Regions from separate parts of the Homo sapiens genome. Here region 2 is linked to region 1. The links come from fine-mapping of genetic effects on gene expression. A gene starts in region 1. The other region holds a variant in brackets. All regions are shown on one strand. Distances are from middle to middle.

Region 1 (15,924 bases):
GATAAACAAGCCTCAGTCCACATTCTCTAAGAATCTCCAGTGCATGGGACAGACAGGTAAACATGCATTTACAATACCAAGTGAAAAGTGCAGAAAACAGCCCAGCTGTGGGGTGGGACACATAATGATTTCCAGGGAGGTAGTATTTCTTTTTCTTTTTGTTTTTGAGAGGGATCTTTTTCTTTTTGTTTTTGAGAGGGAGTCTTGCTCTGTTGCCCAGGCTGGAGTACAGTGGTGTAATCTCAGCTCACTGCAACCTCTGCCTCCCAGCTTCTCCTGCCTCAGCCTCCTGAGTAGCTGGGATTACAGGCACCTGCCACCAAACCCAACTAATCTATTTTAGTAGAGATGGGGTTTCACCATGTTGGCCAGGCTGGTCTTGAACTACCGACCTCAAGTGAGCCACCCGCCTCGGCCTCCCAAAGTGCTGGGATTACAGGTGTGAGCCACCTCACCCAGCCTTGAGCTGGATCTTGAAGGAGAGGTTCAAGTCAGCCTGGCCTGAGATGGTGTTCCAGGGTGGGAAGAGCAGGTGCTAAGACCCAGTGCTAAGAGAGACTGAGCAAAAAACGTGCCAGAAACTGTTAGAAGTTCAGCATGGCTGGAGCATAAGTTGTGTGTGTGTGTGTGTGTGTGTGTGTGTGTGTGTGTGTGTGTGTGTGTGTGTGTGGTGGGGTACAGGGATGGGAGGTGGTCTAAAGGCAAGCAGAGATCAGGAGTCTTAAAGGCCAAGAGAAGGGCACTGAAGCCATTAAGCAGTAGCGTGCCAATGTCACTCTTGGGAAGGTTGTTCTGGCTGCTTTGGAGACTGGGTTAAAGTGCGCAACCTGAGACAGTTCAAAGACTGCCCAATCAGGAGGAAGAGGTGGCGGGGTAGGAGTAGAGGTGGAGGAGATGGGTGGATTTGGGAGCTATGAAGGCAGTCACAGGATAGAGGTTTATTATAATGACAGCAATATTGACAAGCTCATAATGTAGTAACCTAACAACAGCTCTCTTTTCAGACCGCATGGGTAAGAATCTTCTCCTCACCCTTTTTATTTGGAAAAATTTCAAACCTCAGAAGAACTGCAAGATAGTTCCCCCACACAACCAACTTTTCCTTTTCCTTCTTTCTTTTTTTTTTTTTTTTGATAGAAACTGGGTCTTGCCACGTTGCTCAGGCTGGTCTCAAATTCCTAGGATCAGGGGATCCTCCCACTTCTGCCTCCCAAAGTGCTAGGATTATAGCCATGAGCTGCCTACAAAAGTTTCCTTGAACATGCATATACTCTTCATGTGGATTTGCTAATTGTTACATTTTGCCTCTTTCTCCCCTTGTATCATTTTCTTTGAACCACTTGCAAGTTAGTAGCTGAAACCATGACGCTACACATCTAAATATTTGAGCATTTATCTCCTTACCATAAAAAGAGTTTCTTTCACATAATTGCAACATCATTATCTGACTGAGGAAACTTAACACTGATATACTATAATTTAATATAAAGTTCATATTTAGATTTCATCAATTGGCCCAGTAAGTCTTTTAAAGCCGCTGTTTCTCATTAATAATTCAAGTAAGGATCATGTATTGCATTTAGTCATCGTTTCTCTTTTCCTCTCTTTTTTTTTTTTTTTTTGAGACGGAGTTTCGCTCTGTCGCCCAGGCTGGAGTGCAGTGGCATGATCGCCGCTCACTGCAACCTCTGCCTCAAGCAATTCCCCGGCCTCAGCCTCCCAAGTAGCTGGGATTACAGGTGTGTGCCGCTGTGCCCGGCTGATTTTTGTATTTTTACTAGAGATGGGGTTTTACTATGTTGGCCAGGCTGGTCTCAAACCCCTGACCTTATGTGATCCACCCACTTCGGCCACCCAAAATGCCGGGATTACGGGCGTGAACCATCATGCCTGGTCCTCCGCTAATTAATTTTTTTTTTTGTAGAGACGTAAGTCTTGCTATATTGCCCAGGCTGGTCTTAAACTCCTGGACTCAAGGGATCCTCCTGCCTTGATCTCCCAGAGATATAGGACTACAGACATGAGCCACTGCACCTGTATCTCTCTCTCTCTCTCTTTTGACAATGTTAGAAATGTTAGTTTATTTTTCTACCTTTTCTCTTTTTTTCTTCTTTCTGTTTAAAGTTTGTTTTAAAATTTTATCTTGAAGTGGTTTTAAACTCACAGAAAAGTTCCAAAAATATTATAAAGAACATTTATATGTTTCACCAATTATTTACATTTTGTAAATGTAAATAATTTACATTTACAAATAATTTACAGAGTCACCAATTATTAACATTTTGCCGTATTTACTTTATCTCTCTCTTGTCTACAAATATATATCTCTTTCTTTTTCTTGAGACGGAGTCTCACTATATGGTCCAGGCTGGAGTGCAGTGGCACGATCTCGGCTCACTACAACCTCCACCTCCCAGGTTCAAGCGATTCTCTCCTGCCTCAGTCTCCCGAGTAGCTGGGATTACAGGTGCCTGCCACCACGCCCAGCTGATTTTTGTATTTTTAGTAGAGACGGGGTTTCACCATGTTGGTCAGGCTAATCTCAAACTCCTGACCTCAAGTGATCCACCCCCCTCAGCCTCCCAAAGTGCTGAGATTACAGGCGTGAGCCACCATGCCCGGCCTTACATATATATCTGTATTTTTTTTTTTTTTAGATGAAGTCTTGCTCTGTCGCCAGGCTGTAGTGCAGTAGCACCATCTCGGCTCATTGTAACCTCTGCCTCCCGGATTCAAGTGATCCTCCTGACTCAATCTCCCGAGTAGCTGTGACTACAGGCATGAGTCACCACGTCCAGCTAATTTTTGTATTTTTGGTGGAGACAGAGTTTCACCATGTTGGCCAGGATGGTCTCCATCTCTTGACCTTGTGATCCGCCCACCTCGGTGTCCCAAAGTGCTGGGATTACAGGTGTGAGCCACCACGCCCGGCCTATATCTGTATTCTTTTCTGAACCATTTGAAAGTAAATTGCCTCTCTTAACCCTAAATACTACAGGGTACTTTTTCTAAGGGCACTGTCTTACAAAACCACAGTGAAAGTATCAAAATCAGGAAATTTTCAGATATCAAGGGTGGGAGGATATTACAATTTTTTTAAAAATCAGGAAATTTGGCCAGGTGCGGTGGCTCACGCCTGTAATCCCAGCACATTGGGAGGCTAAGGCGGGTGGATTGCCTGAGGTCAGGAGTTCTAGACCAGTCTGGCCAACATGGTGAAACCTTGTCTCTACTAAAAATACAAAAAAATTAGCCGAGCATGGTGGCATACGCCTGTAATCCCAGCTACTCGGGAGGCAGGGGAATTGCTTGAACCAGGGAGGTGGACGTTGCAGTGAGCCGAGATCTCGCCACTGCACTCCAGCCTGGGCAACAGAGCCACCACGCCCGGATAATTTTTGTATTTTTAGTAGGGACAAGGTTTCAGCATGTTGGCCAGGCTGGTCTTGAACTCCTGACCTCAGGTGATCCAGCCGCCTCGGTCTCCCAAAATGCTGAGATAACAGGCGTAAGCCACCGCACCTGGCCACATATTGCATTTAGTTTTTTTTTTTTTTTTTGAGATGGGGTCTCACTCTCTCGCCCGGGCTGGAGTGCAGTGGCACGATCTCTGCTCACTGCAAGCTCTGTCTCCCAGGTTCATGCCATTCTCCTGCCTCAGCCTCCTGAGTAGCTGGGACTACAGGCACGTGCCACCATGCCCGGCTAAATTTTTGTATTTTTAGTAGAGATGGAGTTTCACCGTGTTAGCCAGGATGGTCTCGATCTCCTAACCTCATGATCCACCTGGCTTGGCCTCCCAAAGTGCTGGGATTACAGGCGTGAGCCACCGCGCCTGGCCTAGTTTTTTTTTTTTTTTTTTTTTTGAGACGGAGTCTTGCTCTGCCGCTCAGGCAGTGAGCCACCTGCCCTGGCCTCCCAAAATGCTAGGATTATAGCCATAAGCAGCTTACAAAACAGTTTTCTTGAACATGCTTATACTCTTCACGTGGATTTGCTAATTGTTACATTTTGCCTCTTTCTCCCCTTGTATCACTTTCTTCGGACCACTTGCAAGTTAGTAGCAGAAATCATGACACTACACATCTAAATAATTGAGCATTTATCTCGTTCCAATAAAGATAAAAGTGATTCTCTCATATAATTGCAACACCATTATCTGACTGAGGAAATTTAACACTGATATACTATAATTTAATATAAAGTTCATATTTAGATTTCACCAGTTGGCCCAATAAGTCTTGTAAAGCTGCTGTTTCTCATTAAATAATTCAAGTAAGGATCATGTATTGCATTTAGTCATTATTTCTCTCTTCCTCCCTTTTTAACTTTATTATTTATTTATTTATTTGAGACAGAGTCTCACTCGGTCACTCAGGCTGGAGTGCAGTGACATGATCTCAGCTCATTGCAACCTCTGCCTCCCCGGTTCAAGCGATTCTCCTGCGTCAGCCTCCCAGGTAGCTGGGATTACAAGTGTGTGGCACTGTGCCTTGGTAACTTTTGTATTTTTAGTAGAGACGGTGTTTCACCATGTTGGCCAGGCTGGTCTTGAACTCCTGACCTCAAGTGATCCACCCACCTCAGCCTCCCAAAGTGCTGGGATTACAGGTGTGAATCACCACACCTGGTCCTCTGCTAATTAATTATTATTTTTTTTTTTTTGTAGAGATGGAGGTCTTGCTATGTTGCCCAGGCTAGTCTCAAACTCCTGGACCTAAGGGATCCTCCTGCCTTGATCTCCCAGCATAATGGGACTACAGGTATGAGCCACTGCACCTGTATTTCTCTCTCTCTCTCTCTCGATAATGTTAGAAATGTTAGTTTATTTTTGAGGGGTGCGGTAGCTCACTCCTGTAATCCCAGCACTTTGAAAGGCCGAGCTGGGCTGGATCACTTGAGGCCAGGGGTTCGAGACCTCAGCCTCCTGAGTACCTGGGATTACAGGTGTGTGCCACCACACCCGGCTAATATTTTATATTTTTGGTAGAGACAGGGTTTCACCATGTTGGCGAGGCTAGTCTCAAACTCCTGACCTCAAATGATCTGCTTGCCACAGCCTCCCAAAGTGCTGGGATTATAGGCATGAGCCACCACACCTGGCCCATTGCATTTAGTTGATGCACATCTTTAGTGTTCTTAAATCTAGGCAATTGCATATCCGCCTCCTTTCTCTGTCCCCCACCCCTTATTCCCCATGTGTATTTCACAACATTGACTTTTTTTGAAGTTTTCAGGCCAGTTGTTTTGAAGTATGTCCCTTCTTTTGGATATGTCTGTTTTCCAATGATTAGATTCAGGGCAAACATGTTTGAATACTACACAGATGACCGCTGAGCCCTTTTCAAGACAAAATATTAGAGGCACATGGTCAGATATCAAAGTTGATTGTTTAGGTAAGCTGGGTTGGAATTTTGGCCTCACATTTTGCTAGTTGGGTAAATTGGTTATTGAGACGGTTTTCTCAGCTGTCAAATTGGGATGTAATAATCTAGCTTCATGAGGTTGTTGAATTAATATATGTAAGGCATTTAGAACAGCGTCTGGCACATTATAAGTATCAATAAATAAACACTGTTACCGTTATTATTATCACTACGATTTTTAGAGGCCTTAACAGGAACATCCAGCACCTTCAACAGTATATGGCTCATAGGAATCATTCCATGAATATTTGTTAGCAGAAGGACAGCTCTATGAGATAGATTGCTATCAATTACTGCCCCATTTTACAGATGAGGAAACTGAGGCCCAGAGAAGCCAAGTAGTGACCTAGGGTCACACAGATTGCCGTTAAGTGGCAAGATACGGGGTGTGTACTCAGGCATATCGGATCTGTAAAGTGAGGGATAAGGAACCTTAATGTATTTTGTAAATCCTCCAGGGCTGTGTGGATGTGAAGAACTGAATTGGAGCGCCACGCAGCGGTTCTCTGGCGTACAGTATCCATCCATACAGTAGGCGCTCAATAAATGTCTGCTGCACGAATGAGAAAATGAGTCAGCTGGGGCGAGATCATCCCCTAGCGTTGGTGTGCAATTGCGTGGGGATCCATTGCTTCCGACGCTACTCCTGCCGGGTCACCACAGGCGCACGTGTTCCGGCAGGGCGCGGCTTCCGGTGACCCAGCTCCGCCCTAAGCCCCATCCCAAGCCCCGCCCCTTGACTGTTCTCGCGTTCGCGGACGGCTGTGGTGTTTTGGCGCATGGGCGGAGCCGTAGTTACGGTCGACTGGGGCGTCGTCCCTAGCCCGGGAGCCGGGTCTCTGGAGTCGCGGCCCGGGGTTCACGATGTCCGACGAGGAAGCGAGGCAGAGCGGAGGCTCCTCGCAGGCCGGCGTCGTGACTGTCAGCGACGTCCAGGAGCTGATGCGGCGCAAGGAGGAGATAGAAGCGCAGATCAAGGCCAACTATGACGTGCTGGAAAGCGTGAGTGTGGGTTCGGGGCGCCCCAAGTCGCCTAACCCGGCCCGGAGTCCCTGGGGTACTGGGATGCCAGGGCGGCCTCAGTTTGGGCGCTCCGCAACGGATCTCCCTGGGAGGCCCAAGGCGCCGCAAGTGCGGCCTCTGTCGGCACAAGAAGGCAGGCAAAGAACTTTAGCAACTGAAGAGTTAGCCATATTGATATCCAGCAAGAGTTTGTGGAGCCCTGCTGTGTGCTAGGCGCTGGTTTAAGTGCTGTGCATTGTTGAGTTAATTTAATCTTTGCAACAACCCTTTGAGGTGGATGCTGTTACTCTTTCCATTTTAGGGAGGGGGAAACAGGTGTTACTTGGTGATTAAACAGCTGTCATGTGCCTCGCTGACTGCCTTATCTTAATTTTGTACTTTTTGTAAAGACAGAGTCTCACTGTGTTGCCCAGGTTGGTATCGAACTCATGGCCTCAAGCGATCCTTCCACCTCGGCCTTTCAAAGTGCTGGGATTACAGGCGTGAGCTACTGCACCCGGCATTTGCTGATTGTATCGTGAATTCTTAAACTTCAGTGTGTATATGAATTACCTGGGGATCTTATTAAAATGCAGATTTTGTTTGAGGCAAGGGAGCAGATTCTGCATTTGTAGCAAACTCCCAGCAATGCTGATGCTAGTGGTCTAAGGACCGAACTTTGAGTTACAAATAAGGCTCATCATCCTTATTGCATAAGGAGGAAACTGAGGCCCAGAGTGGGGCAAACGCCTATCTAAGGTCATGTAGTTCGGAAGTGGCAGTGGTGGGTCTGGCTCAAAAGCTGATGCAGGTTTTCTTATGCCATCTAGTGTAAAATCACAGATCAGTTTGCAGAGGAAGATGCAATTAATTATGCCCAAGTAGGGTGGGATGGAATGCATTTTAGGTGATGTAAGATGAAGTTTCTTTTTTTTTTGTCTGAGACGGAGTCTTGCTTTGTCACCCAGGCTGGAGTGCAGTGGCTCAATCTCGGCTCACTGCAGCCTCTGCCTCCTGGGTTCAAGTGATTCTCCTGCCTCAGCCTCCCGAGTAGTAGGGATTACAGGCGAGCGCCAGTACGCCAGGCTAATTTTTTATTTTAAGTAAAAGCAGGGTTTCACCATGTTGGTCAGGCCGGTGTTGGATTCCTGACCTCAGGTGATCCGCCCACCTTGGCCTCCCCAAGTGCTGGGATTACAGGCGTGAGCCACCGCGTCCGGCCATAAGATGAAGTTTCATACGGAGGGCCAGAGAACCATTTTACTGGGTGCTGACTATATGCTCAAAGTGGGATTCAGACTTCAGGTCTGTTACATTCAGAACCTGTGCTTTCAAGCAAATTACCAGCAATTTCTCAAACTTTAGTTTACTTTCTACCACATGCAGTATACTATATGCATATACCACTTGTGTTATTCCTTTGATATTTTTATTTAAATAGATCTACTTTTAATCTTATATAAATGTATTATTATTGTTATTATTATTATTGAGACAGGGTCTCGCTCTGTTGCCCAGGCTGGAGTTCAGTGGCACCATCTTGGTTCACTGCAGCCTCAATCTCCTGGTGTCAAGCAATCCTCCCACCTCAGCCTCCCAAGTAGCTGAGACTGCAGGTACGTGCCACCACGCCCAGCTAATTTTTGTATTTTTTGTAGCTATGGGGTCTCACTATGTTGCTTGCTCAGACTGGTCTGAAACTCCTGGGCTCAAGCAGTCCTCCTGCCTCTGCCTCCCAAAGTGTTGGGGTTACAGGCATGAGCCACAGTGCCTTGCCCATAAATGTATTTTAAAAGGAAATTTCAAAACTCCGCTGCATATGGAAAATGATAATCTCTTCTCTTAAATATAAGGTCAGATGCTTTGCATGTTGATACGGCATGTTGGTTGCTTCTGGCTAGCTGCTGTTGCTTGCTGAAAGCTTTCAGCCTGAAACCGTGCTCTATATTTGTTTTTAAAAAGTGGGTTTGGGCCGGGCCTGGTGGCTCACGCCTGTAATCCCAGCACTTTGGGAGGCCAAGGTGGGTGGATCACCTGAGGCCAGGATGGTCTCGATCTCCTGACCTCGTGATCCGCCCGCCTCGGCCTCCCAAAGTGCTGGGATTACAGGCTTGAGCCACCGCGCCAGGCCTACAAAAAATTTTTTTAAAAATTAGTTGGGCGTGGTGGTGCATGCCTGTAGTCCTAGCTACTTGGGAGGCTGAGGCAGGAGGATTGCTTGAACCCTGAATGTTGAGGCTGCAGGGAGCTATAATTGCACCACTGCACTCTCTTGTGGGTGACAGAGTGAGATGCTGTCTCTTTAAAAAAAAAAAAAAAAAAAAGGCCGGGTGCGGTGGCTCATGCCTCTAATCCCAGCACTTTGGGAGGCCGAGGCGGGCGGATCACGAGGTCAGGAGATCGAGACCATCCTGGCTAACACAGTGAAACCCCGTCTCTACTAAAAATACAAAAAATTAGCTGGACGTGGTGGCCAGCGCCTGTAGTCCCAGCTACTCTGGAGGCTGAGGCAGGAGAATGGCCTGAACCCGGGATGTGGAGCTTGCAGTGAGCCAAGATTGCGCCACTGCACTTCAGCCTGGGTGACAGAGCGAGACTCCGTCTCAAGAAAAAAGAAAAAAAAAAAAAAGACTGGGCATGGTGGCTCACGTCTGTAATCCCAGCACTTTGGAAGGCCGAGGTGTGTGGATCGCTTGAGGTCAGGAGTCCGAGACCAGCCTGGCCAACATGGTGAAACCCCGTCTCAACGAAAAATACAAAAATTAGCCAGGTGTGGTGGTACACATCTATAATCCCAGCTACCCGGGAGGCTGATGCAAGAGAATCACTTGAACCTGGGAGGCGGAGGTTGCAGTGAACCAAGACTGCACCACGACACTCCAGCCTGGGTGACAGAGATTCCATCTCAAAAAAAAAAAAAAAAAAAAAAAGAAGTGGACAGCTAAAACTATAAATCTCGTATAATAAAGCATAGGAGTAAATCTTCATGACCTTGGATTAGGCAAAGCCTTTTTAGATATGGCACCAAAAACACAAGCTACAAAAGAAAAAATGATAAGTTGGACTTCAACTTTAAAACTGTGTTTCAAAGGGCATAGTAAAATGAAAAGATAAGCTCCAGAATGGGAGAAAATATTTGCATATCATTTCTCTGATAAGAGGATAGTATCTAGACTATAATAAGAGCTCTTACAACTCAATAATAAAAAGACAGCCAATTAGAAGACAGGGAAAGGATCTGAATAAACATTTCTCCAAAGAAAATATGGTCAATACAAATGGTCAATGGCCAGGCGTGGTGGCTCATGCCTGTAATCCCAGGACTTTGGGAGTCTGAGGCAGGAGGATCACTTGAGGCCAGGGGTTTGAGACTAGCCTGGGCAACACAGTAAGAGCCTATCTTTACAAAAAATTCAAAATTAAAGGCCGGGCATGGTGGCTCATGCCTGTAATCCCAGCACTTTGGGAGGCCGAGGCTGGCAGATCACGAGGTCAGGAGATCGAGACCATCCTGGTTAACACGGTGAAACCCCGTCTCTACTAAAAATACAAAAAAATTAGCCGGGTGTGGTGGCAGACGCCTGTAGTCCCAGCTACTCGGGAGGCTGAGGCAGGAGAAGGGCCTGAACCCAGGAGGCGGAGCTTGCAGTGAGCCAAGATCTCGCCACTGTACTCTAGCCTGGGCAACAGAGCGAGACTCTGTCTTTAAAAAAAAAAAATTAAAAATTAAAAATTAGCCAGGTGTGATGACATGTGCCTGTGGTCCCAGCTACTTAGGAGGCTGAGACAGATCGCTTGAACCCAGGAGTTTAAGGCGGCAGTGAGCTATGAACACACCACTGCACCCGATCCTGGGCAACAGAAGATCTTGTCTCAAACCAATACAAACACAAAAGCCATTACCTTTTACACTTTACATGGGTCAGTTATATGGTATCTGAATTATATCTCAATAAAACTGTTATAAAAACAGAGGGTACTAGAGATAGCAAGTAACTGGGGTGTTGCAGAGACCAGCACCAAATGGACACTTTTGCCTTGACAATTGCAGGATTGTAGAGAATTGGGAGAGGAATATGTATTTTTGATTCAGGGTTATTTAATGCCGTGTGTGTGAGCTGCTAGTGTTATGGATCCCATCCTTTGAGAAGCATTATCCAATGTGATATTGATTCTCAAAGGCTGGTCAACCCTTAACCACTGTGGGAAGGCAGGAGCAGATACAGGTTTTTAGCCCCTGGCGCATTTCTGCAGTGTCACGGCGAGTCCTGTGTTAGGGGAGTGTGGAGAACTATCTCCCTGCGCAGTGGACAGTAGGTTTGGGTGTAACCCGGAGGCTTCCAGAGAGAAAGGGAGCAAAATGAATGGAATCCCTCTTCTCAGTGCCTGTGTACACTGGCAGCTTGTCCCTGGACTGACTAATCCTTACAGCCACTATTTATGACTTCTGCGCGTAGTCGTTTTCTGAGGCCACCTTAACACCACAGAGTTGGTGACTTAAAACAGGAATTTACTTTGTCCCAGCTCTGGAGGCCAGAAGTCTGAAATCAAGGTGTCAGCAGGGTTGGCTCCTTCTGCAGGCTCTGAGAGAGAAGCTCCCAAGCCTTTCTCCTGGCCTCTGGTGACTGCTGGCGGTCCTTGGCCTACAGCTGTGTCACTTGAACCTCTGCCTGCATCTTCATGTGGCCTTCCTCCTGTGTCTGTCCCACACCTACCTCTGCCTTTCTTTTATGAGGACACCAGCCACCAGATGAGCTTATCTCGAGATCCTTAACATAATTACATCTACAAAGACTCTTTTTCAAATAAAGTCATATTTACAGGTTCTGGGGGTTAGCTCGTGGTTATCTGTTTTTGGGGGCCGCTCTTCAACCCACTATGCTGTGTATGCGCGTGGCATGTGCTAAGTACTCTGCAGGTCAGCTCGTTAGTTCTTGCAGCAGGTAGGGAGGGAGGCGAGTGCTCCTATTCCCATTTTATAATTGAGGAAGCTGAGGCTTAGAGAGGAGAAGGTCTCAGCTAAGGATGCCCAGCTTGTACATGGCAGAGTTGAGATTCAAATTAAAGTCTAACCAATTGCAAAGCCCCTCCCCTGAACCATGTGACTGGTTTCACTGCTTTTGTGTACTCTCCTCTGACTCATGTTAAAAAAAAAAAAAGTGTTGTTTTGAATAAAGAATACATTCCCATAGGCAAAATTCAAAACCTACAGAGGGGTATAAAATGGACTGTCTCTCTCCCTGCCCTGTCACCTAGCCACCCAGTTCTTCTCCCCGGAGGCAGCTGGTGCTATCAGTTTCCTTCTTCAGATCTTTTTATTTTCAGAAGAATCAAAGCCCTGCCACAGCTGGGTGCTGTCTGGGCTTTTCACTCCCCTCTAGCTTCCAGGGCCAGCAGCCAGGTGTCAGCCACCTGTGGGAAGGAGGGTGTGAAGGAGTGGAGGAAGAGGCTGGCCTTGGGGATGATGCTCAAAGGAGTCTTTGGTTTTATCGGCACTGTTTTAACTTCAAAAAAGAATGGATTCATGCATTACTTGCGTCGTTAAAAATAAAAAATGAAAAACACAGTGCCCACCCCAGGGTAGTTGTGAGGGCATGAGTAGAGCCCCTGGTGTAAGTGATCAGTATGTGGCAGTTTTCATTACTGTCACCTTTATTATGACTTCAGAGGAGAAGGGTCTGGGGAAAGACATCCTGGGGACATTACACCCATGAGCACCTTTTAACCACGTTTCTTTCCTCCAGCAAAAAGGCATTGGGATGAACGAGCCGCTGGTGGACTGTGAGGGCTACCCCCGGTCAGACGTGGACCTGTACCAAGTCCGCACCGCCAGGCACAACATCATATGTGAGTGGCCCTCTTAGAAGACTTTCCCCACCTTGTGGTGGGAAGGTGTTAAAGGCATACAAATAAAACCAACTATCTGTATTATCTACTGCCTTCTCTTCTGCCTTGATGGGATTGTCTTGTCCCCATCCAAGGACTGAGAACCAAGGGAATGGGCTAGACTCTAAGGTTCTATATTTCTGGTTTCATTTTCTCTCTCTCTCTCTCTCTCTTTTTTTTTTGAGTCAGGGTCTTGCTCTGTCTTCCAGGCTGGAGTGCAGTGGTGCTAACATGACTCACTGCAGTCTCAACCCCCCAGGCTCCAAGTGCTCCTTCTGCCTCAGCCTCCCAAGTAGCTGGGACTATAGGCATGTGTCGCTGTGCCTGGCTAATTTTTTTTAGTAGAGACGAGTCTCACTAAGTGGCCCAGGTGAGTCTTGAACTCCTGGACTCAAGTGGTCCTCCTGCCTTGGCCTTCCAAGGTGCTGATTGTTTTTAATTAAAGAGCTAGCAGAGAGTACAGATTGGATAGTATATTTGTTTTCTGTTTCTGCCATAACAAATGACGTGATTTGTTTTTAATTAAAGAGCTAGCAGAGAGTACAGATTGGATAGTATATTTGTTTCTGTTTCTGCCATAACAAATGACCACAGACTTAGTAGCTGGAGATAAGAAGTCCAGATGGGTCTCACTGGACTAAAATCAAGGTGTTGGCAGGGCTGGCTCCTTCTGGAGGATCTAGGGGAGAACCTGTTCCTGGTCTTTTCTGGTTTCCAAAGGCTGCCCACCGTCCTTGGCTCATGGCTTCGTCCATCTACACAGCCAGCAGTCGCATTTCCCTCCCTCTGATTCTGTCATAACATCTCTTTCTCTCACTCTCCTGCCTCCCTCTTTCACCTATAAAGACCTCTGTGATGACACCAGGCCCACCTGGATAATCCAGGATCATGTCCGAATCTTAAGGTCCTTAATCACATCTGCAGAGCCTCTTTTGCCATGTAAGGTGGCATATTCCCAGCTTCTAGGGGCTAGGATGTGGATGTGTTGGGGGCCATTATCCACTCAGCCATAGGTAGGCAACCGTCTCCACCACAGAGTCCTATTAGCATTTATCCTCCACATTTTTCACTTACTAACTCCTCTTTAATCTGTTTGAATCTTGATTCCATCTGCATCACATCTTATTTATTTATTTATTTTTTGAGACGGAGTCTCGCTCTGTCACCCAGGTTGGAGTGCAGTGGCACGATCTTGGCTCACTGCAACTTCCACCTCCCGAGTGACAGAGCAAGAGACCGTCTCAAAAAAAAAAAAAAAATCTGTTTGAGCAATTCCTTATTGGTCTTTTTTTGAAAAATCTGTTCTCGGCCGGGTGCGGTGGCTCATGCCTGTAATCCCAGCACTTTGGGAAGCCAAGGCGGGCAGATCACCTGAGGTCAGGAGTTTGAGTCTAGCCTGACCAACATGGCAAAATCCTGTCTGTACTAAAAATAGAAAAATTAACTGGATGTGGTGGCACATGCCTGTAATTCCAGCTACTTGGGAGGCTGAGACAGGAGAATCACTTGAACCCAGGAGGCAGAGGTTGCAAAGAGCCGAGATTACACCACTGCACTCCACCCTGGGCGACAGAGCAAACAAAACTCTGTCTCAAAAAAAAGAAAGAAAATCTATTCTCAAAACAGCCCTTTTTAAAGAACAGTTATAGATTTACATAAAAATTGGAAAATAATGGCTGGGTGCGGTGGCTCACGCCTGTAATCCCAGCACACTGGGAGGCCGAGGTGGGCAGATCACCTGAGGTCGGGAGTTCGAGACCAGCCTGACCAACATGGAGAAACCCTGTCTCTACTAAAAATACAAAATTAGCTGGGCATGGTGGCACGAACCTGTAATCCCAGCTACTCAGGAGGTTGAGGCAGGAGAATCACTTGAACCCAGGAGGCGGAGGTTGCCGTGAGCCGAGATTGTGCCATTGCACTCCAGCCTGGGCAACAAGAGTGAAACTCTGTCTCAAAAAAAAAAAAAAAAAGAAAAGAAAAAAAAATTGGAAAATAATGCATAGGTCCTTTGGCTTCTGTATGTAATCTCCCGTGTTGTTAACAGCATATATACACATACATGTGTATATATCTACACATACATGTAAATATATACACACATACATGTGTATGTAAAATATACACATGCGTGTATATATGCAAAATACACATATGAGTGAATGACTCAGGCTGGGTGTAACCAAGATTTCACTTTTCTCTGAAATCCTCTAGAAGGAAAAATGCTGCATAAGCTGGGCACAGAGGCTCATGCCTGTAATCCCAGCACTTTGGGAGGCTGAGGCCTCCCAAATATATACACATGTGTATACACACAGGTTCAAGTGATTCTCCAGCCTTAGCTTCCCAAGTAGCTGGGATTACAGGTGCCCACCATCACACCGGACTAATTTTTTTTTTTTTTTTGAGATGGAATCTTGCTTAGCCACCTAGGCTGGAGTGCAGTGGCATGATCTCGGCTCACTCACTGCACTCACCATCTCCCGGGTTCAAGTGATTCTCCCATCTCAGCCTCCCAAGTAGCTGAGATTACAGGCATCCGCCATCGTGCCCGGCTAATTTTTATATTTTAGTAGAGACAGGGTTTCACCATGTTGGCCAGGCTGGTCTTGAACTCCTGACCTCAGGTGATCCGCCCGCCTCGGCCTCGACAGGCGTGAGCCACCATGCCTGGCCTAATTTTTTAGTAGTATTTTTTTAGTAGAGACGGGATTTCACCATGTTGGCCAGGCTGGTCTCCAACTCCTGACCTCAGGTGATCCGCCCGCCTCGGCCTCGACAGGCGTGAGCCACCATGCCTGGCCTAATTTTTTAGTAGTATTTTTTTAGTAGAGACGGGATTTCACCATGTTGGCCAGGCTGGTCTCGAACTCCTGACCTCAGGTGATCTGCCCGCCTCGGCCTCGCAAAGTGCTGGGATTACAGGCATGAGCCACCGCGCCCAGCTAACAGCTTATGTTAATATGGTACGTTTGTTATAATTGCAAATTTGTTTTTTGAAATACACTGCAGAAACATTTTGTACTGAAAAAAACCCTTTCAACATTTTGATTAGAATTGTAATATGTTGTAAATAGTCGTTCGTTCCATTCCCCAACAGCTGTGTATTGAGCACTTCCCTGTGCCAGGCATTGCAGAGTCTAGGGATGCTGTGGACCTCACTGGGGGAGGGCTTTTCTAGTGAAAGTGACCATGTATTATGTAAGTCTGCCTCCCAAGTGCATGTCTCCACTTGTTCAGATCTGGGTTCTTTTCCCACATCTGCTCCTGTGGGTTGAGAACTTGAATCCCTTCATGACTGAGGGTCTTGCCTTTGCTCCAAAGTGACAGTGGCAGAGGAGGCAGGTCAGGTAGTACCGCAATCCCACTGACAGGCACAAGGTATCAAAATACCAGCTGCTGTGCTGGCGTGGCCTGCAGATTGCCATGGTGGTTCACAACATTTTGAATTAGCTATCTGTACTGAAAAATCAGAGAATTTCACTTCAAAGATCCCAATTTTCAGCTTTTCTGGAAAAATCAAAGATTTTGTAGCATTGGGTCTTCCTCCCAAACCCAGCCAATTGGCAAGAGCCCTGTAGCAGGGGTGCCCTTTGGCCACCTCCCTGTG
Region 2 (15,924 bases), 48 kb before region 1:
AAGCCACCGCGCCAGGGCTTTTTCTTTCTTTCTTTTCTTTCTTTCTTTCTTTCTTTCTTTCTTTCTTTCTTTCTTTTTTCTTTTTTTTTCTTTTTTTTTTTTTTTGTTGTTGTTGTTGTTGAGACAGAGTCTTGCTCTGTCACCCAGGCTTGAGTGCAGTGGTGCAATCTTGGCTCACTGCAACTTCTGCCTTCTGGGTTCAAGCCATTCTCCCACCTCAGCCTCCCGGGTAGCTGGGACTACGGGCATGTGCCACCATGCCCGGCTAAGTTTTTTGTATTTTTAGTAGAGATGGAGTTTCACCATGCTGGCCAGGCTGGTCTCCAACTCCTGACCTCAAGTGATCCGCCCGCCTTGGCCTCCCAAAGTGCTGGGATTCTAGACATGAGCCACCGTGCCCGGCCTTTTTTTCTTTCTTTTTTTTTTTTTTTGAGGCAGTCTCTCTCTGTTGCCCAGGCTGGAGTGCAATGGTATGGTCTCGGCTCACTGCAACCTCTGCCTCCCAGGTTCCCAGGTTCAAGGGATTCTCATGCCTCAGCCTCCTGAGTAGCTGGGACTATAGCTGCGCACCACCATACCCAGCTAGTTTTTTTATTATTAGAAGAGACGAAACCCTATCTCTATTTTTTATTTTATTTATTTTATTGAGACAGAGTCTCACTCTGTCGCCCAGGCTGGAGTGCAGTGGCGCAATCTCGGTTACTGCAACCTCCGCCTCCTGGGTTCAGGATATTCTCCTGCCTCAGCCTCCTGAGTAGCTGGGATTACAGGCATGTGCCATCATGCCCGGCTAATGTTTGTATTTTTAGTAGAGACGGGGTTTCACCATGTTGGCCAGGCTGGTCTCAAATGCCTAACCTCAAGTAATCTTCCCGCCTCAGCCTTTCAAAGTGCTGGGATTACAGGTGTGAGCCACCTGTATCCGGCCAATTTTTAAATTTTTATAGAAATAGGGTCTCACTATGTTTCCCAAGCTGGTCTTGAACTCCTGGGCTCAAGCAATCCTCTGGCCTCGGCCTCCCAAAGTGCCAGGATTATAGGTACGAGCCACTGCGCCTGTCTTCATCTTCTCTCTTGAACTTGCTCTCCTGTCATATTTTCTACTTTGGTCAATGACACTTCTGTTCTCTGCCTCCACCCACCGCTGCCTGCCACTGACCACCTAAGCTCAAAGGCCAGGGATCCTGGATTTAAACCTTCTCTTTCCCTCCCTTACCTACCAAATCTGATGCTTCTTCCCTATTCCTCAAATCCATCCACCTCTTCCTCTGCTCCTCAGTCCCAAGAGATAACTCCTTTCTTCATTGCCTCTATTGTATTGTGGGGGCCAAAATGGGAGCCCCTCTCCAGCTTCTCAGGAGGCTGAGGCAGGAGAAAGGATCACTTGAGGCCAGGAGTTTGAGGCCAGCCTGGGAAACATGGAGAAACCCTGTCTCTACTAAAAATACAAAAATTAGCCAGGCGTGGTGGCATATGCCTATGGTCCCAGCTATTAGGGAGGCTGAGGTAGGAGGATCGCTGAAACTGGGGAGATCAAGGCTGCAGTGAACTGTGATCATGCCACTGCTCTCCAGCCTTGGTGACAGAGACCTCAGACAGAGAGAGGGAGGTCCCAGACAGACTTGGGTTCCCTTGTGGGCAAGAGCCCCTCCCCCCAAAATAAGACTATTCATATAGCATTGACTGTGCCAGCCTCTGTTTTAAACGTCTTTGATACTAGCAACAGGGCTAGGAGGAGGGTATTATTATAATTCCCACTTAACATAGGAAACTGAAGCACTGAGAGGTCAAGTAGCTTGCCATAGGTCACACAGCTACCACGTGGCTATCTGAGAGGTGAACTCAGGCAGCCTGGCTCTCTAGTATGTTCTCAGCTAGTGGGTGTCTGCTCTGCATGCTTTATTTATTTATTTATGTATTTATGAGATGGAGTTTCGCTCTTTTTGCCCAGGCTGGAGTGCAGTGGTGCGATCTCACTGCAACCTCTGCCTCCTGGGTTCGAGTGATTCTCCTGCCTCAGCCTCCCGAGTAGCTGGGATTACAGGTGCGCACCACCAGGCCCAGCTAATTTTGTATTTTTAATAGAGATGGGGTTTCACCATGTTGGCCAGGCTGGTCTTGAACTCCCGACCTCAGGTGATCCACCCACCTTGACCTCCCAATATTTATTTTTGAGATGGAGTCTCACTCTGCCACCCAGGCTAGAGTGCAGAGGCGTGATCTCGGCTCACTGCAAGCTCCACTTCCCAGGTTCAAAGGATTCTCCTGCCTCAGCCTCCCGAGTAGCTGGGATTACAGGCACCCTCCTCCATTCCCGGCTAATTTTTGTATTTTTAGTAGAGGCGAGGTTTCACCCTGTTGGGCAGGCTGGTCTCTAACTCCTGACCTCAAGTGATCCACCTGCCTCAGCCTCCCAAAGTGCTGGGATTACAGGCATGAGCTACCGCACCTGGCCATATGTGCCCAACTTTCTAAAATGTTGACTCAAATTTGTTTGAAACCATGCAGGCAAAACGAAGTAGGTCTATGAGCCACATTTGGTCTGTAAGCCACTAGTTTGCATCCTTCTGGGTTATACAATTTCCCTTCTTCACATTAAGTCACAGGAGAATAGAGGGGGAGTATTTTTTTTGCACGGAATCCTTTGGGTTCTCTCTGATCTCTTTATTTCTGAAGTTCGTGATCCCAGAAGCTCTGATTTCTTCTATAATCTGAAAAAAATCCCCAATTCCCACCATTATACCAACTCAGAGTATTTTTTTCTTCTATTGAGCTCTGCTGCCTCCTAGCTCTGAGTTGACTTATCCTCACGGAGGGTTCTCAAGCATTAGAAGCAGAAAGAGGCCAGAGACAGTGGCTCATTCCTATAATTCCAGCACTTTGGAAGGCTGAGGTGGGCGGATCACCTGAGACCAGGAATTCGAGACTGGCCAACATAGTGAGATCCCATCTCCATGAAAAATAAAAACAAAATTAGCTGGGCGTGGTGGCACATGCCTATAGTCCCAGCTACTTGGGAGGCTGAGGTAGGAGGATCACCTGAGCTCAGAAGGTGGAGGTTGCAGTAAGCCAAGAGCACACCACTGCACTCCAGCCTGAGCAATGGAGTGAGACTCTGTCTAAAAAAAAAAAAAAAAGAGAGAAAAAGAAAAAAAAAAGAGGCCAAATTTGCCCACCACCAACTCTTACCTGGTTTTGAAGAAAGAATCTCCTTCCTAGGGTTTTAGGACCCAGCTGCCTCATTCTTTTGCAAGGATCACTCACTCTTCTATGAGTATGAACAAGCCCCTTTCCAAAAGAAGTCCTCACTGCGGGCAAGGCTGGGGCAGTGCAGCTGCGTGGGTGGTCATGGGCACTGCCCTGCTGAGGGCAGGGACTGGGATACCAGGCCCCTCCTACCTGCTTTATCTCTGAGACCAGGAACCAAGGGACCATATCCTACAGTTGATGAGCAGGGATGCTGCCCCTAGAGTCCCTTGTCTAACACTCTCCCCTCTCCTGTGTTCAGAGGTTTGGGCTCTGGGTAGCAAAACTGAAGACAGCTCATCTTTAGAGATCATCGGCCGGGCGCGGTGGCTCACGCCTGTAATCCCAGCACTTTGGGAGGCCGAGACCATCCTGGCTAACAAGGTGAAACTCCGTCTCTGCTAAAAATACAAAAAATTAGCCGGGCGTGGTGGCGGGCGCCTGTAGTCCCAGCTACTCGGGAGGCTGAGGCAGGAGAATGGCGTGAACCCGGGAGGCGGAGCTTGCAGTGAGCCGAGATCGCACCACTGCACTCCAGCCTGGGGGACAGAGCGAAACTCCGTCTCAACAACAACAAAAAGAGATCATCAAGCCGGCAGACAAGATGCTGCCAAACTCTGACCCCACCTCAGGGCCTTTCTCCGTTCGCTCTTCCTGGAATCCTTTTCCCGAGCATGGTCCCATGGCTGGCTCCCAAATGTCACCTTCTCGGAGAGGTCTTCCGTTATCAAAATTAGCTCCCCTGCGATCTTCGCTTCCACATATTCTCATCAACTGCCTTTTTTTTTTTTGAGACAGGGTCTCACTCTTGCCCAGGCTGGAGTGCAGTGTCAGGATCAGGGCTCGCTGCAGCTTAGACCTCTGTCCATCAATCGATCCTCCCACCTCAGCCTCCTGAGTAGCTGGGACCACAGGTGTGCGCCACTACGCCAGGCTAATTTTTATTTGTTATTTGTGTAGACGCAGGGGGGTCGGGGTCTTGCTATGTTACCGGGCTGGGCTCGAACTCCTGGCCTCAAGCGATCCTCCCACCTCTGCCTCCCAAAGCGCTGAAATTACAGGTGTGAGCCACCACGCCCGGCTCATCGCTTGCTTTATTGTCTGAATCGCGTTTATCTCTCTACAAAAGCAGTGTCATCCGTCTTTCCCTCCAGAGCAAGTCCCCTTCCTTCCCTGGTTCCAGAATTCCCCTCTCCGCGTGGTCCCGCTGGCAAAGCGCTGGCACCCGCAGCTCCTCGGTCCCGCGGCGCTGGCGGCCGCCCTGGCCTCCCCCTGGCTGCCATAAGGCACTACTGCCTTATGCGCAACACAAACACAGACACAGTATTGGACCGGGGCACGCTTTAATCGGGAGGGCTGGAGCAGAGGGCGGCCCCGCCGAGGGGCGTGGTCAGTGTGGGCGGAGCCTTGGGGGCCGAGTCCGCTGGTGGGCGGGACCCAAGGGGAGCAGCCAGTAGGGAAGTTGGGCGAGTTCCAGAATCAGGGGGCGTGGCTGTGTGGCTGTGGCCTCCGTGGGGTGGGCGGGGCTTACATGCCGGGCACCACCCCATTGGTCTCCATGTTGGTGAGGTTACCCCGCAGGTTCTGCTCCTCCTCGAAAGCCTTGAACAGTGAGTTGAAGTTGCCGGCTCCAAAACCCTGTGGCGGGAAAGAGAGGAGATGAGCCAAGGACCCAGAAAACCGAGTGTGCTAGCTGCCTGTCCCCTCGGGCCTGCCGGGGACAAGCAGTACCTGGTGGTTGTGGCGCTGGATGACTTCCAGGAAGAGCGTGGGCCGGTCCTGCACCGGTTTGGTGAAGATCTGCAGGAGGTAGCCTTTCTCGTCGTAGTCCACCAGGATTTTCAGCTCCTAGGCGGGAGACAGGGGGCTCTGCTAGGGGAGGCTGGCACGGTGAGATCCTTGGAAAGTCCACAGGGGCTCCTGCACCCCAAAAGTCTGGAAATGACCTCTTTTTCTGGCAGTTCAGCCACCTCCAAATATATCCCCAAACTGTCCTATTACTATCCCCCTACTACAGTTCCTAAGGCACCATTCAAGACTGCTGCCCGCTTCTAATCTTGTATCCTTACAATCCATCCTCCCCGCAGACATTATCAGGACACTTTCTTTTTCTTTTTTGAGACGGAGCCTTGCGCTGTTACCCAGGCTGGAGTGCGGTGGCGCAATCTTGGCTCACTGAAACCTCCGCCTTCCGGGTTCAAGCGATTCTCCTGTCTCAGCCTCCCGAGTAGCTGGGACTACAGGCGCAGGCTACCATGCCCGGCTAATTTTTGTATTTTTAGTAAGACGGGGTTTCACGATATTGGTCAGGCTGGTCTCGAACTCCTGACCTCAGGTGATCCACCCACCTCGACCTCCCAAAGTGTTGGGATTACAGGCGTGAGCCACCATGACCTGCTGCGGGATCTTTTAAAAGTCGGATCATGTCATTCCCCTGTTTAAAATCCTCCAGTGGAAATCGGAACCCTCATGTACTGCTGGTGGGACTGTAAAATGGTGCAACCACTTTGGAAAACAGTCTGGCAGCTTCTCAAAAAGTTAAACATATAGTGTTGCTTCCTTAAAATACGGATTAAAAAAAAAAAAGGGGGTGGCCAGGCATGGTGGCTCACTTTGGGAGGCCGAGGCAGGTGGATCACCTGAGCTCAGTTCGAGACCAGCCTGGCCAACATGGGGAAACCCAGTCACTACAAAAAAAAATACAAAAATTAGGCTGGGCAAGGTGGCTCACGCCTGTAATCCCAGCACTCTGGGAGGCTGAGGTGAGTGAATCACCCGAGGTCAGGAGTTCGAGACCAGCCTGGCCAACATGGTGAAACCCCATCTCTACTAAAAATAAAAATAAAAATAAATTGGCTGGGCATGGTGGCACACGCCTGTTATCCCAGCTACTCAGGAGGCAGAGGCAGGAGAATCGCTTGAACCCGGGAAGTGGAGGTTGCAGTGAGCCAAGATCGGCCACTGCTCTCCAGCCTGGGCAACAGAGCAAGACTCTGTCTCAAAAAAAAAAAAAAAAAAATTAGCTGGGCGTGGTGGCGGGCGCCTATAATCCCAGCTACTGGGGAGGCTGAGGCAGGAGAATTGCTTGAACCCAGGAGGCTGGAGGTTGCAATGGGCCAAGATCGCACCACTGCACCCCAGCCTGGGAAACAAAGCAAGACTCCATCTCTAAACAAACAAAAGGGAACATGGAATTACCATGTGACCTAGCTACTCCTAGATATATTCCAAAGTGCATTGAAAACACGTCCACACAGAGCCTTGTACATAGATGTTCACAGTAGCATTACGTATAACACCCCAAAAGTGGAAACAACCCAAATATCTATCAACGAGGAATAGATAAACAATGTGTGTCTATCTATACAATGGGATATTTTTCAGCCACAAAAAGGAACGAAGCACTGACACACACCCCACGCAGATGAACCTTGAGCACATGCTATGGGAAAGAAGCTGCTCACAATAGGCCTATTTTGTGATTCCTTTTTTTTTTTTTCCGAGATGGAGTTTCACTCTGTCGCCCAGGCTGGAGTGCAATGGCGCGATCTCGGCTCACTGCAACCTCCCCTTCCCTGGGTTCAAGCAATTCTCCGGCCTCAGGCTCCCCAGTAGCTGGGATTACAGGCATCTGCTATCACACCCAGCTAATTTTTGTATTTTTAGTAGAGACAGGGTTTCACCATGTTGGCCAGGCTGGTCTTGAACTCCTGACCTCATGATCCGCCCACCTCAGCCTCCCAAAGTGCTGGGATTACAGGCATGAGCCACCGTGCCTGGACTTTGTGATTCCTTTTGATGAAATGTCCAGAATAGGCAAATCTATAGAGACTGAAGGTAGATTAATGGTGCCTAGGGCTGGGGTGGGAGGGGGGAAGGGAACAGAGGGGGTTGGGAGGTGCTGGCTAAGAGGCTCAAGGTTTCTTTTTGGGGTGACAAAAATGTTCTAAAATTGATTTTTTGCCCAGGCTGGAATGCAGTAGCCTGATCATGGCTCACTGCAGCTTTGACCTCCTGGCCTCAAGTGATCCTCTCACCTCAGCCTCCTGAGTAGCTGGGACTACAGGCACGAACCACCATGCCCAGCTAATTTTTTAAAACTGTTTTTTTTGTAGATACAGGGTCGCCCTGTGTTTCTCAGGCTGGTCTTAAACTCCTGGCCTCAAGCAATCCTCTCACTTCAACCTCCCAAAATGCTGGGATTATAGGTGTGAGCCACTGTGTCTGGCCTAACTGTTTTTGTTTTTCTTTTAGACAGGGTATCACCCAGGCTGGAGTGCAGTGGCCTGATGATGGCTCACTGTAGCCTCTACCTCCTGGGTTGAAGTGATTCTCCCACTTCAGCCTCCCCAGTAGCTGGGACCACAGACACAGATCACCACGCACAGCTAATTTTTTTTTTTCTTTTTGTAGAGATGGGGGTTTCGCCATATTGACCAGGCTGGTCTCAAACTCCTGACCTCAAGTGATCCACCTGCCTTGGCCTCCCAAAGTGCTGGGATTACAGGCATGAACCACCATACCTAGTCCTAAAATGGATCTTTTTTTTTTTTTTTTTTTTTTTTGAGACAGAGTCTCACTGTGTCGCCCAGGCTGGAATGTAGTAGCGCAATCTCGGCTCACTGCAACCTCCGCCTCCCGGGTTCAAGTGATTCTCCTGCCTCAGCCTCCTGAGTAGCTGGGATTACAGGCATGTGTCACCACGCCTGGCTAATTTTTGTATTTTTAGTAGAGGCAGGGTTTCACCATGTTGGTCAGGCTGGTCTCGAACTCCTGACCTCATGATCCGCCCGCCTCGGCCTCCCAAAGTACTGAGATTACAAGCATGAACCACCACACCCAGTCCTAAAATGGATTTTGATGATAGTTGCACAACATAGCAAATAGCTAGAAATCATAGAATTGTACACCTTAAAAAAATGACATGTTATGTGACATATGTCAATAACACTGCTAAAACCAAACCAAAAAACCCTCCAGTGGTTTCTGGTCACAAAAGAACAAAATCCAGATTCCTGAATAATAGCTCACAAGAGGAACTGGCTCTTGCTTACCTGTCTGACCTAGGTCATCGCTCAAAAACAGCCTCCCATCCACTCTAGCCTATTCTTTCTGTTCCTCAGACGCTCAGGGCATGCTCCTACCTCGGCCCTTGCTGATCCCTCTGCCAGGAATGCCTTTCTTCCCGCTGTTCACATGGCCAGCTCCCGCTCATGATCTAGACTTCACTCAGATGTCACCTCCTCAGAGAGGCCCTCCCTGACCAGTCTCTGTAAAGCAGCCCCAGGCTGCCTGTTTGAACTTCCTGCACTGACTATCTCTGACCGTGCTTTTATTGTTTATTTGTTTGTCATCTGTCTCCTCCTCCCACATAGACCCTAGAATAAATGTCCTTTGCCAGCAGGGACTTGGTCTGGGCTCCCCTCCGGGCTGAGACAATATTTCTGAAAAGATGCAATGCAGAGCTCATACTCCCCCCACAAGGCTGCGGATCCTGCCTGGGCCTCACCTCCAGGGCATCAATGTTCTCCTTCACCTTGATCTTGGCCGTCTTCAGCTTCTCCCGCAGTTGTTTGTAGTACGTGGAGGGAACAGATAAGAACTCCAGGCCTCTCTCTCTCAAGTGGCGAATCTGTTTCAGAGCAAAGCTGAGGTCAGCCTTCGGCCTCCAAGTTCAACTCCCCTAGCCAGGTGGAGGTGCTGGGTCATCAGGATACAGGGTCCCTATCCTAGCTCCCCTCAACTGCCAGGATGCTGTGTGGCCTCTTCCCCTTTCTTCTCTGTCATGGGCCCCGTTAGAACAACAACTGCTAGATTTATAGAACACTCACCATGTGCCTGCCTTGAGCACTTTCTTTTTTTCTTTTTTTTTGAGATGGAGTCTCTGTTGCCCAGGCTGGAGTGCAGTGGCACGATCTTAGCTCACTGCAACCTCTGCCTCCCGGTTCAAGCGATTCTCCTGCTTCAGCCTCCTGAGTAGCTGGGATTACAGGTGACTACCATCACACTCAGCTATGTATTTTTAGTAGAGATGGGGTTTCACCATGTTAGCCAGGTTGGTCTCGAACTCCTGACCTCAGGCGATCCACCTACCTCGGCCTCCCAAAGTGCTGGGATTACAGGCGTGAGCCACTGAGCCCGGCCTGAGCACTTTCTACGTATTCCCTCATTATGTCCATGCAGCAATCTTTTGAGGCAGCTGAAGGACTATTCTCCCATTTCATAGCTGGGGAAACTGAGGCATGAAACGATTAAGGATCTATTAGGCCGAGTGTGGTGGCTCACGCCTGTAAGCCCAGCACTTTTGGAGGCTGAGGCGGGCAGATCACTTGAAGTCAGGAGTTGGAGACCAGCCTGACCAACATGGCAAAATCCTGTCTCTATTAAAAATACAAAAAAAAGGCCGGGC[G/A]AGGTGGCTCACGCCTGTAATCCCAGCACATTGGGAGGCCAAGATGGGTGATCACGAGGTTAGGAGATCAAGACCATCCTGGCTAACACAGTGAAACCCCTACTAAAAATACAAAAAAAAAATTAGCTGGGCGTGGTGGTGGGAGCGTGTAGTCCCAGCTACTTGGGAGGCTGAGGCAGGAGAATGGCGTAAACCCGGGAGGCAGAGCTTGCAGTGAGCCGAGATCGCGTCACTGCAATCTAGCCTGAGCAACAGAGCGAGACTCTGTCTCAAAATAAAATAAAATAAATAAAAAATAAAAAATAAAAATAAAATACAAAAAAAGTTATCCAGGCGTGGTGTCATGCACCTGTAATCCCAGCTACTTGGGAGGCTGAGGCAGGAGAATCGCTTGAACCCAGGAGGTGGAGGTTGCAGTGAGCCAAAATCGCACCACTGCACTCCAGCCTAGAAGACAGAGCAAGACTGCATCTCAAAAAAGAAGGATATATATATATATACACACACATATATATATTTGAGAGACAGGGTCTTTGTTCTGTCACCCAGGCTGCAGTGCAGTGGCATGATCTTAGCTCACTGCAGCCTCAACCTCCCCAGGCTCAGCTGATCCTCCTACTTCAGACTTCTGGGTAACTAGAACCACAGGTGTGCACCACCACACCTGGCTAATTTTTTGATTTTTTTGTAAAGATGAGGTCTTATGGCCGGGCGCAGTGGCTCACACCTGTAATCCCAGCACTTTGGGAGGCCAAGGTGGGCAGATCACAAGATCAGGAGATCGAGACCATCCTGGCTAACACAGTGAAACCCCGTCTCTACTAAAAATACAAAAAAAAACATTAGCTGGGCGTGGTGGCGGGTGCCTGTAGTCCCAGCTACTTGGGAGGCTGAGGCAGGAGAATGGCGTGAACCCAGGAGGCGGAGCTTGCAGTGAGCCGAGATCGCGCCACTGCACTCCAGCCTGGGCGACAGAGCCAGGCTCCGTCTCAAAAAAAAAAAAAAAAAAAAGGATGAGGTCTTACTATGTTGCCCACGTTGGTCTTGAACTTCTGAGCTCAAGCAGTCCTCCTGCCTCGGCCTCCCACAGTGTCTGACCCCCCAATTTAAATGTGCAATGCCATTCACCCTTGCTGTCCCAATTCCCTGCTTTACTTTCTTCCTGGGTGCTCTCTACCATCTAGCATTTATATTTTACTTATTTTGTTTATTGCTCCACAAGGGCAGAAACTGTTATAGGCATGAGCCACCATGCCCAACCTTAATTTCCTCATTTTAAAAAAAATTTCTTTTTTGAGGTTGCGGGGAGATAGGGCCTCACTCTCTGTCACCTAGGCTGGAGAAAAGTGGCTCAATCATAGCTAACTGCAGCCTTGAAATCCTTGGCTAAATGGATCCTCCTGCTTCAGCCTCCCAAGTAGCTAGGACTACAGGCATGAACCACCAAGCCTGGTTAATTTTGTTTACTTTTTGCAGAGACAGGGTCCCACTGTTTTCCAGGCTGATCTCTAACTTATGGGCTCAAACAATCCTTCTGCTTTGGCCTCCCGTGTAGTTGGGACTACAGGCATAAGCCACTGTGCCCAGTCCTAATTTCCTTTATTAATTACTATTATTTTTTTCTAAAGCAGAATTTCACTCTTGTCGCCCAGGCTGTGGTACAGTGGTGCGACCTTGGCTCACTGCAACCTCTACCTCCTGAGTTCAAGCACTTCTCTTGCCTCAGCCTCCTGAGAAGCTGGGATTACAGGTGCCCGCAACCACGCCCAGATAATTTTTGTATTTTTAGTAGAGATGGGGTTTCACCATGTTGGCCAGGCTGGTCTCAAACTCCTGACCTCAGGTGATCCCCCTGCCTTGGCCACCCAAAGTGCTGGGATTACAGGTGTGAGCCACTGTGCCCGGCCCTAATTTCCTGATTTTTAAGGTAAGGCAACTAAAGTCCAGAGACAGCACTGAATCTCCCAGAGACACAGAGCAAGCCACTGGCAGAACCGGGACCATCACCCAGGCTTCCTGATACCCTGGCGCCTGCTACCTCCAAAGCCCAGGGGTTCTGTGGAGACTGAACTCTCTGGGGGTGGGTGTGGCTGTGCCTGCCCATGAGTTGCAAGAAGCAGTGAGGGAGTCCTGTCAGTCTCCCAGCCCAGAGAAACGGGCCCAGGACTGCCGCCACCCGCCCTCTCAATTTTGCAGAGATCGTCCCTGGCTCTGAATGAGAGAGGAATTCGGACAGGGAAGGGGGTTCTAACCGCTGTGATGATGTCTTCGGTCTTGAGAGCGATGTGCTGGACCCCAGCGCCCCCGTTATAGTCCACATATTCCTGGGGGAGGGAAACAAGGAGACCACTGTCATTTGCCCCATCACCCACATCCCTGACCCTACAAGAGCCCCCAGACCTCTTCCCTGCTCCCCTCTCCCCCAGCCAGGGGCGGCCTCACCTGGATCTGGGACTTCTTCTTGCCAGGCGCTGGCTCATTGATGGGCATCTTGATGGACTCTTCATAGTTGGCCACCACAATGGATCGCAGAGAGCTATATTCCGTGTGCACCTGCGTGTCATCCACGGACCAGAAGCGGTGGAACTGCAGGTTTTTCAGGTACCTGTAGGGTGGGCGGTGGAACACATATGCTCTGAGCGCCTCCAGGGACGGCCTCCATCACCCATTTCCACCTTCCAGAATCTGTCCCTGAGCAGGCTCCAGAAAGGAGATGCCACTGCCATCATACCCATCAGAGATTTAGATCTTTTTGTTGTTGTTGTTGCTCGAGACAGAGTCTCACTCTTGCCCAGGCTGGAGTGCAGTGGTGCAGTCTTGGCTCACTGCAGCCTCAATCTCCAGGCTCAATTGCTCCTCCCACCTCAGCTTCCCAAGTAGCTGGGACTACAGGCATGTGCTACCACACCTGGATAATTTTGGGGTATTTTTATTTTTTGTTTTTTGAGACGGAGTTTCGCTCTTTTCGCCCAGGCTGGAATGCAGTGACGCAATCTCGGCTCGCTGCAGCTGCCACTTCCTGGGTCCAGGCGATTCTCCTGCCTCAGCCTCCCAAGTAGCTGGGATTACAGGCATGCACCACCATGCCCAACTAATTTTTTGTATTTAGTAGAGACAGTGTTTCACTGTGTTGGTCAGGCTGGTCTCGAACTCCTAACCTCAGGTGATCCACCCGCCTCGGCCTCCCAAAGTGCTGGGATTACAGGCATGAGCCACTGTGCCCGGCCGTATTTTTTGTAGAGATGGGGTCTCACTATGTTGCCCAGGCTGTCTTGAACTCCTGGGTTCAAGCCATCCACCTGCCTGGGCCTCCAAAGTACTAAGATTCCAAATATGGGCCACCACGCCCAGCCTAGATTTGTACCTTTATGATGACATTTTTCCTTCAGGTGGAAGTGTCTTGGAACGAAATACATACAGGACGGCAAGGCTCCCACAGATGGAAGTAAAGTGCTTTGAGAAAAAGGCCCTTGCTTGGAATTTGGACAGGGGGCTCTCTGGGTGGTGGCAACCTTCCTCCAAGCCTCCCTGGACTGTGATGTCCCCAGGGTTCCTCAGAAGGAGGGCCTGTGGGTCGCTTTGGGCCTCAAGTCCACTGGTCTCCATGTTGACAGTTTTACAGTGAATAAATGCATCAGTGGCCTCAGGCTAACTCCCAACATCTTGTGCTGTATTTTCCACTTTTATTTTATTTTACTTTATTATTATTATTATTATTTTGAGACAAAGTCTCTCTCTCTCACCCAGGCTGGAGTGCAGTGGCGTAATCTCAGCTCACTGCAACCTCCGCCTTCCTGGTTCAAGCGATTCTCCTGTCTCAGCTTCCCAAGTAGCTGGGATTACAGGCACACACTGCCACACCCAGCTAATTTTTGTATTTTTAGTAGAGACCGGGGTTCGCCATGTTGGTCAGGCTGGTCTTGAACTCCTGACCTCAGGTGATCCACCCGCCTCCGCCTCCCAAAGTGCTGGGATTACAGGCGTGAGCAAGTGCGCCCGGTCTATTTTATTTTATTTGTTTATTGGAGACAAAATCTTGCTCTGTTTCCCAGGCTGGAGTCTCACTCTGTCGCCCAACCTCCACCTCCCGGGTTCAAGCGATTCTCCTGCCTCAGCCTCTTGAGTAACTGGAATTACAGGGGCCCAACACCTCGCCCACTGAGTTTTTATATTTTTAGTAGAGACGGGGTTTCTCCATATTGGTCAGGCTGGTGTTGAACCCCTGACCTCAAGTGATCCTCCCACCTCGGCTTCCCAGAATGCTGGGATTACGGGTGTGAGCCACTGCACCCAGTCGTATTTTCCATGTTAGTGCAAGGACCAGGGAGTGGGCCAGTCCACCGTGAGGACCCGTCATCTTCACGCAGAGGGAGAGGGCCAAGGTCTCACCATTCGGAGGCGGACACCATCTCCTGATCAGGCTGGTTTCCCACAATGTGGTCGATCATCTCCAGACTGCATTTGGGCCTGGGAAGGGAAGAAGATGGGGGTGAGAAGGTGGCTACCCCCCAGATTGCTCCCTTCTCCATGACCCCTCAATAATAATAATAGCTCACACTTCTGTTTTTGGAGTTCTATTTTTTTGTAGAGATGGAGTCTCTACAAAAAGAGAGACTCTTTTTTTTGCCCAGGTTGGTCTAAAACTCTGGGGCTCAAGTGAACCTCCTGCTTCAGACTCCCAAAGTGCTGGGATTATAGGTATGAGCCACTGCGCCTGGACTCACACTTATGTAGCATTTACTAATGGGCCGGACATTTTATTTTGTCAACTCATTTACTATTACAGTCCCCATTTTACAGATGAAGAAACTGAGGCCTAGAGAGATGAAGCGACTTGCCCAGGGTGAAATGGCTGTGAAGTAACAGAGCTGGGATTTGAACCCGGGGAAGTTTGGTTGCAGAGGCCATGGTCTCAGCCTCTGTGCCACCTCTTCAAGCACCCCTGAGGACTTCCAGGAATTCCCTAGCCGGCTCCATTCTGCCCCAACACACATGCGCAGTGGACATGGAGGAAGGGGCATTACTTTTCACAGTCCCTCAGGGCTTTCCACCCACCTCTGCCCTGAGGGACACTCACAGTTTAGGAAGTAGGGGGTCCATGAACGCTGGGGCCTCATATCCAGGCAAGAATTGGCCGATGTAGTTCATCTTCTCCACCAGGGTGTGTGTGGTGTCCCCATACTACGGGTGGAAAACAGCCTGGCTCGGCCCCTGGGCACCCATCCCCGCCGAGGACAGAGCACATTTCATAGCGCTAACGTAGCCCCGGGTTCCAACCTGCATCTGACCCTAACCAGATGCGTGATCTTGGGTAAGTCACTTCTCCTTTCTGAAATGAATTGCAATCTGTCACTTGTTTGAGAGTTTCCGTGAGGGCGGGGACACTGTTTTGCTCATGATGGTGTACCCAGCGCCAAGCTCAGTGCCTGGCACAGGGGAGGTACTCAATGAAGCACCTACTTCATTTATTTCAGTAGGTCAACTAGATGAAGAACGCAGGAGGGCATTGGATTAAATTATACTGAAGAGCAGCCTGGCGCGGTGGCTTAGGCCTGTAATCCCAGCACTTTGGGAGGCCAAGGCGGGTGGATCATGAGGTCAGGAGATCGAGACCATCCTGGCGAACACGGTGAAATCCTGTCTCTACTAAAAAATACAAAAAATTAGCCGGGTGTGGTGGCGTGGCGGGTGCCCGTAGTCCCAGCTACTTGGGAGGCTGAGACAGGAGAATGGCATGAACCCAGGAGGCAGAGCTTGCAGTGAGCAGAGATCGTGCCACTACACTCCAGCCTGGGCGACAGAATGAGACTCCGTCTCAAAAAAAAAATTATACTGAAGAGTTCTGTCAGCCACTTTAACCATCTTTTTTTTTTTTTTTTTTTAAGGCGGAGTCTCACTCTGTCACTCAGGCTGGAGTGCATTGGCACGATCTCGGCTTACTGCAACCTCCATCTCCCGGGTTCAAGCCATTCTCCTGCCTCAGCCTCCTGAGTAGCTGGGATTATAGGCGTGTACCACCATGCCGGGCCCACCTCAACATCCCAAAGTGCCGGGATTACAGGCATGAGCCACTGTACCTAGCCTTTTTTTTTTTTTTTTTTTTTGTTTGAGACGGAGTCTTGCTTGTTGGCCAGGCTAGAGTGTAGTGGTGTGATCTTGGCTCTCTGCAACCTCCGCCTCCCAGGTTCAAGCGATTCTCCTGCCTCAGCCTCCCAAATAGCTGGGACTACAAGCACGTGCCACCACACCTGGCTAATTTTTTTTTTTTT

Evidence for each region. PIP is the estimated chance that this variant, and not a neighbour inherited with it, causes the effect.
Region 2: its variant is fine-mapped to the expression of PSMD9 in whole blood (TOPMed, PIP above 0.99).

Annotation. Positions count from the first base shown.
Region 1 is chr12:121,882,567-121,898,490 of GRCh38, forward strand. PSMD9 (proteasome 26S subunit, non-ATPase 9) reads left to right here and starts at 6,224. Exons shown (of 6, transcript NM_002813.7): 1 at 6,224-6,428; 2 at 12,173-12,275. The coding sequence starts at 6,291. It also overlaps a transcript of HPD not described here. RefSeq lists enhancers at 5,881-6,494, 6,128-6,527, 6,495-7,108.
Region 2 is chr12:121,834,955-121,850,878 of GRCh38, forward strand. HPD (4-hydroxyphenylpyruvate dioxygenase) reads right to left here. Exons shown (of 14, transcript NM_002150.3): 8 at 14,733-14,836; 9 at 14,045-14,122; 10 at 12,098-12,260; 11 at 11,908-11,979; 12 at 8,756-8,878; 13 at 4,978-5,094; 14 at 4,573-4,884. The coding sequence ends at 4,774. Among named protein-coding and RNA genes, the nearest start is that of TIALD, 13 kb to the right of the region's middle. RefSeq lists enhancers at 3,894-4,564, 5,236-5,905 and a silencer at 4,527-4,726. The variant G/A (reference allele first, on the strand shown) is at 9,656.